Regions from separate parts of the Homo sapiens genome. Here region 1 is linked to region 2. Evidence: fine-mapped expression QTL. A gene starts in region 2. The other region holds a variant in brackets. All regions are shown on one strand. Distances are from middle to middle.

What was found. PIP is the estimated chance that this variant, and not a neighbour inherited with it, causes the effect.
Region 1: its variant is fine-mapped to the expression of ZDHHC2 in left ventricle (GTEx, PIP 0.97).

What each region holds. Positions count from the first base shown.
Region 1 is chr8:17,188,006-17,191,025 of GRCh38, reverse strand. All of the region lies in intron 3 of ZDHHC2 (zDHHC palmitoyltransferase 2), which reads right to left. Among named protein-coding and RNA genes, the nearest start is that of ZDHHC2, 33 kb to the right of the region's middle. The variant A/G (reference allele first, on the strand shown) is at 1,401.
Region 2 is chr8:17,154,844-17,157,592 of GRCh38, reverse strand. It overlaps ZDHHC2 (zDHHC palmitoyltransferase 2), which reads right to left and starts at 1,111. Exons shown (of 13, transcript NM_016353.5): 1 at 740-1,111. The coding sequence starts at 869. RefSeq lists a silencer at 293-1,652.

The DNA of each region.
Region 1 (3,020 bases), 33 kb before region 2:
TATGCCATTGCACTCCAGCCTGGGTGACAGAGCGAAACTCCATCTCAAAAAAAAAAAAAAAAAAAAAAAAAAAAGAATGAATAAGACCTAGTATTTGACAGCACAATAGGGCGGCTACAATCAATAATAATTTAATTGTACATTTTAAAATAACTAAGAGTATAATAGGATTTTTTGTAACACAAAATACAAATGCTTGTGGTAACTGATACCCAATTTACGCTGATGTGATTATTACACATTGCATGCCTGTATCAAAATACCTCAGGTACCCCATAAATATATATATCTATTAGGTACTCACAAGTTTTTTTTAACTACAAAGAAATTCAGAATGTAAAGTGCTTGAATTGGTGTAACGGATTTTTCTCTTTTTTCTTTTTGCCTAGTCTTCATTTTCAAAATATAATTTAGTGCGGTTGTATTACTTTTATATTGAGAAAATCTTACCAATGAAAAACTATTATCACTTTAACAATCTTGCTATGAAAAGGGCAAATTTTAATTCACATGTTTTCAGTTCAGGATCCTCATTTTACAAGCGAGAGGTCTCTAACAGCTGATCAATTAAAAGAATAGCCCAAGACCTTGCGTTTTATAAAGGGAATATTCTAAGGTTCTTAACCACCAGACAAGGGCTCTTTCTTCCTAACAGTGGTCTCCAAACTCTTTTGATCATGTTCCCCTAACCGTAAAAAATTACGTGAGATCACACTGCTAACAGATGAGTATTTATTGGTATATATTCTTTTCTTTTCTTTTTTTTTTTTGAGACGGAGTGTCGATCTGTCGCCCAGGCTGGAGTGCAGTGGTGCGATCTCGGCTCACTGCAACCTCCGCCTCCCAGGTTCAAGTGTATTGGTATATATTTTATCAGCTAATAGCTTATGTACCTCATATACAAAACTTTAAAAAATAAAAATATTAAATGAATAATACGTAAAAAAATTTTTGCTATTTTTCCCCCATGCTTCAATTGAAGTCCTGGGCACTCCCACCCATTGTGCTTGCTCTCCATACTAGAGCATGGTGTAGTGAAAAGAAAGTGTCCTTAAGGGTTGAAAGGACTTTTGGTTGAACCTTAGCTCTCCCACACAGTAGCACTAGATACCTTAATTGTTTCATGTTCAAAGCCAGTGGCTCCATCTGTAAAATAGTAAAAAATAGTATCTATCTCAAACAGTTGTATGACTAAGGTACGTCTTTTGTAGAAAAATCACACAATGAAGCCTGATACCGTTATAATGTCACTGTCATCGATTTGACTGCTCCTTCAATGCTGTGTTCTTTCTTCCGTGTGTTTCATATCCTTTTGCCACTCTGTCCAATCCACTATTTCAAACCTTCTCTACTCTCCCAACCCTTAATTAACCCACTTAGGTCTTCACTGTTAGCCAATG[A/G]TGTCATATATAATTTTAGAGAGAAGTTAGAAGTCACTTCAACTTCCTGCCAAGGCCATAAAAATAAACCTGCATGTGTATGAATAACTTCTTCCCTACTTTTAGTCACTTAAAAAGTATCTCTTGAGTACCTTCTATAGGTCAGACACTGCTTTAGGCACTGGTGATGAAGCAGTGAACAAAGATACATTTCACGCCCTTATGGAACCTACATTCTAACGATGGTGTATTTTCAAAAGTATTCAACAAATAAATATGCAGTGTGTTGCCATGATGGTAAATGTTATGGAGAAAAATCCAGGAAGGTAAGGTGCAGGGAAAGCCGAGGGTAGTGGGGTTGCTATTCTATGTTGAGTCATCACAGACAGCCTCAATGATAAGGTACCATTTGTATAAAGACATCAAAAAGGTGAGAGATTTGCCTTGTCTTTTGAAAGGATCACTTTGGCTACTGTGTTGAAAATACACAAGAGGAGGCCAAAAAAAAAAAAAAAAAAACATAACAAAACACCAAAAAAAAAAACCCAACAAAAAGAAACCTGTTAAGAGGCTACTGCAAATCTATAAATGAGAGAGGATGGTGGCTTGGACCGGGGTGGGAGCAGGGAGCAGTGCGGCACATGAGTTCACATTGTGGCCATACTCTGAGGGTGAGGGTATAGAATTTTCTGATTGACTAGATGTGGCGTCCGAGAGAAAAAGAGTAGCCAAGGATGACACCAATGTTTCTGGCCTGAACAGAAGAGTGAAACTGTCATTACTGACATAAGAAAACTTTAGGACTAGAAGAACTGGGGAATTAAATGAGAAATCAGAAGTTTGTTTTCAGTTGTGTTGAACCTGAAATTTCTATTAGATGTCAAATAGGGAGCTGGAAATGTGTCAGGCGTTTATTAGCAAGCACCAGGCTAATATATTAATCTGAGAGCTGCGGCACTGGGGTGACACATAAAGTCACAGAACTCAATGAAATCCACGAGGGAATAAATGCAGGTATATAAGAAGAGAAGTCCAGGGATTAAGCTCTGGAACATTCCAATGCTTTGGCAGTCTAGGAGCTGAAGAGGAACCAGCAAAGGAGGCCAAGAAGGAGCTGCCAGTATGAATGGAAAATAAATATATTATTTCCATGAGAAAGGGGTAAGAATATTTTGGAAAGGAAATAATGCCATGTTGTATACAGGAAACTATGTGTAGTTAAGAACTACTAGAGTATAAAGTATAAAGTCAGAAATTGAGACAAGAGCTGCTATTGCTAGGCAGAAGAGACTGAGCTTTCCCCTGTGGGATATATGGAATCACAATAGATACAAGCAGTAGAGGGAAGGCGTTACATTGGTTTTTAGGAGGACCACTCCAGCTTCAGGGTATTGGATGAAGTTTTGTGGGGTTCTGGGAAGGAAAGGTAGGCCAGGCTGTAAACAGAAAACCTTAAGATGGTTTTCCAGTATGACCAGACAAACATTGCAAAAAGTAGATGATAGGCCATTAGGCACACAACTAAAATGAGAGAAACATAATTATCATTATAATATGCAAGTACAGACTAAAATTATGGTATTCACAAATGATCTGCTTGTTTTAAAATAACCAAATTACCAGGAGAAGAATACAATATCT
Region 2 (2,749 bases):
TTAAAAGTATCCTACCCACCAATTCAGGAACCTCGAACTCGGACTGGAGCCACTTCGCTCTCTGGATGTAAAAACCTCAGACGATCACCTCTTTTTTTCTCTCCCTACTGTTCAAACACCTAAATTATGGTTTAGTGTGTTGCACATGTCCTCAAAAATACTTTCTAGTAGCTCACCTCCTCCACATCCTTTTAAACTAGAAAAGTGTCCAACTGGCAATCCTCAAATCATAAAGGCAGCAAAAACGCCCCTGAGCGCTGTCACAAATTTTTAACAAGTGCATTGACGCCAACCAGCAAGGGATCCAGCTCCGCCGCCAAGGCCAGCACCCCCGCGCGGGTCTGGCGCAGCTCGGGGCCGGGCCCAGCTCAGCCCTTCAGCCCCCGGCGCGCCTCGCCGGCCTCGGCCTCCCCTCTCCACAGCGGTCCCGGGGACCTTCCGCCCCTCTAGGGGGTGTGGCCGAGGCGGCGGCGGTGAGCGGAAGGCGGCGGGAGGCTCGGCGGCGAGTGCGGGGCGGAGGCGCCACCTTAACCCGAGAGTTGGGAGGGGAGGGCGAGGGGCGTGCGCGTGGAAGAAGCTGCCCCGAGGCTGCTTTTAGCGGCGGAGCCGGCGGGACGCGGCAGGTTGGCAGCGCCCGGGGCGCATCCGGGGGGCGAGAGCGGAGGAGCGGCTGAGCGTCCCGGGACAGTCGGGGTGGGCTGCGCTGCGCTGGGGGCGCCGCGGCGGGGGGCGCACTCACCTATGCACAGCTGGATGGCGTAGGCGTAGTAGGACCAGCCGAGCAGGAGGGTGATGAACACCACCGGGATCCAGTACAGCACCCGCCGGCACCGCCGCCTGGCGCTGCTGCCCGGGCCCGAGGGCGCCATCTTCCAGCCGCATCCACCTGCCCAGCTCCGCCGCCGCCCGCGGGCCTGGCTCCGGGGCGGGCTGGGCGGGCCCGGCACCCCTGGCTGGACGGGCTCCTGGGCGGCGGCGGGGTGCGCTGCGGCCACTGCCGCCGCCGTGGCGCTAACTCCCCATCCCGCAGCCCCGAGCCGGCGCGGCGGACTCCCGGCTCCTCAGCCCGGCGGAGGCGGAGGCGGCGGCTGCGAGCGGAGGCCGAGGAGGCGGAGGGGGGCGGTGAGGCGGCGGCGTCGGGAGGCTGCGCTCCGCCCCCGCCGTTCCCCGCCGCCCGGCCGCCTCCCCTGGCGTGGCAGGCTGCGCCCTCGGGCGGGCTCTGCGGGGATGCGGGGCCCTCGCTCGGGCCACCTCGCGGGCTCCCACCGTGGCCCCGCCGCCTCCGGCTCGGCCTCTGGATTCCGGGGAGGCGGGGGCTGCTGGGCGCAGGCCCCCGGGGCGGAGCGGGCGGTGGCGGCCCCTCCCTAGGCGCCCGGCACCCGGGGCAGTTAGGTCGCGAGCGCTTCCGCGCTTGGCGCAGGGCGGGGGTCGGAGGCGAGGCCGGCGGAGCAGCTGCTGCGCTCGGGACTCCGCGCCTGCCGCGACCCAGGCGCCCTGAGAAAGTCTGCAGCACCGAGGCCCGCGTCCCCGCAGCCCGCGTGGAACCCTCGCGCTTCAACTTGCGGGTCCCTGGGAGCCCGCGGGGGCCGCAAGGAGCCTCCCTTTACTACTCGGGCTTTCGGGGGAAGCAGAAATGCACAGCGAAGAGGGGGTGCCGAGCCGGCGTCTGGCATGGGAGGGGCTGTGGAGAGCGAGGAAGAAGCATTTTTGGCTGTGAATCCAGGCACCTCTGGAGTTAGAAACACAAGTTCTTTGCTCTGAGAATGTTGATGCTTTGGATAAATGATTGTGACAGGGGCCGTTCCCACTGTCCCCTCCCTCAAGTACGGTGGTTCCTTCCACCAACTATTTATTCTTTTCCTCAACCCGCTCCTCACTACGGTGTTTACTTTCGTGGTGGCAATTCCAAACTTAGCAGATAGCTGACTCCAAAGCGGTTCCCAAAAAACACCGTAAGGGAACCTAAAGGTAGTCAGCCCAAACCTCTGATTTTATGATTCACGAAATGGAAAATAAACAAATGCCTCCTTTGCTTTTCCTTCATCTGATTATGAACGCACCTGATCCACAGGGAAACATTTCAATCAATGAGTGTGTGTAAATTATGTGCATCACTACTATACATAATAGGCACAATTTTTCTTAACATTAGTGAATATGTGTATTTACACCACACAGCAACCACAGTGAATGAAATTACTTCTTATTCATGTGTAGAAGTAAAAAAAAAATACTGATTTACATGAATTCAGTCAAAGAAATTTAGCTCTGGTGTCTGCGATTATCTTTCTGTGACTGGATTACACAACAAGCTAATCTCTCCCGAAATAGCTACTATGTTACAGCCCCCCACCCCACATCTCTTTCCATTTCTCTTCAAAAATGCATAGAAAATGTCAGTCAAGTTTCTGTGGGACTTTAAATAATTGAAAAGAGAGACATATTATGTCCCAGTGAATCACTTGATTTTGCTGTAGCCTTTTATATTCTCTGTGGATATTCTGTATATTAATGTAAAAATAAAACTTCTCTGGATTCCTTAATGTTTTCCATGAATATTAATCCTGTGTTCCCCCCCAATCAGAAGAGAGTAAAAAACAGGAATTAAAACTTCCTCCTGGGACTGAAATACCCTCACAAAGAGAAGCAAATCAGTGACTGAAGGTCAATAGAGACCATCAAGGTATGAAAAGGAAGGAATCGGATTTTCCATACTGGAAACGGTGGAGAAAGTGCAAATAGTGCCTCT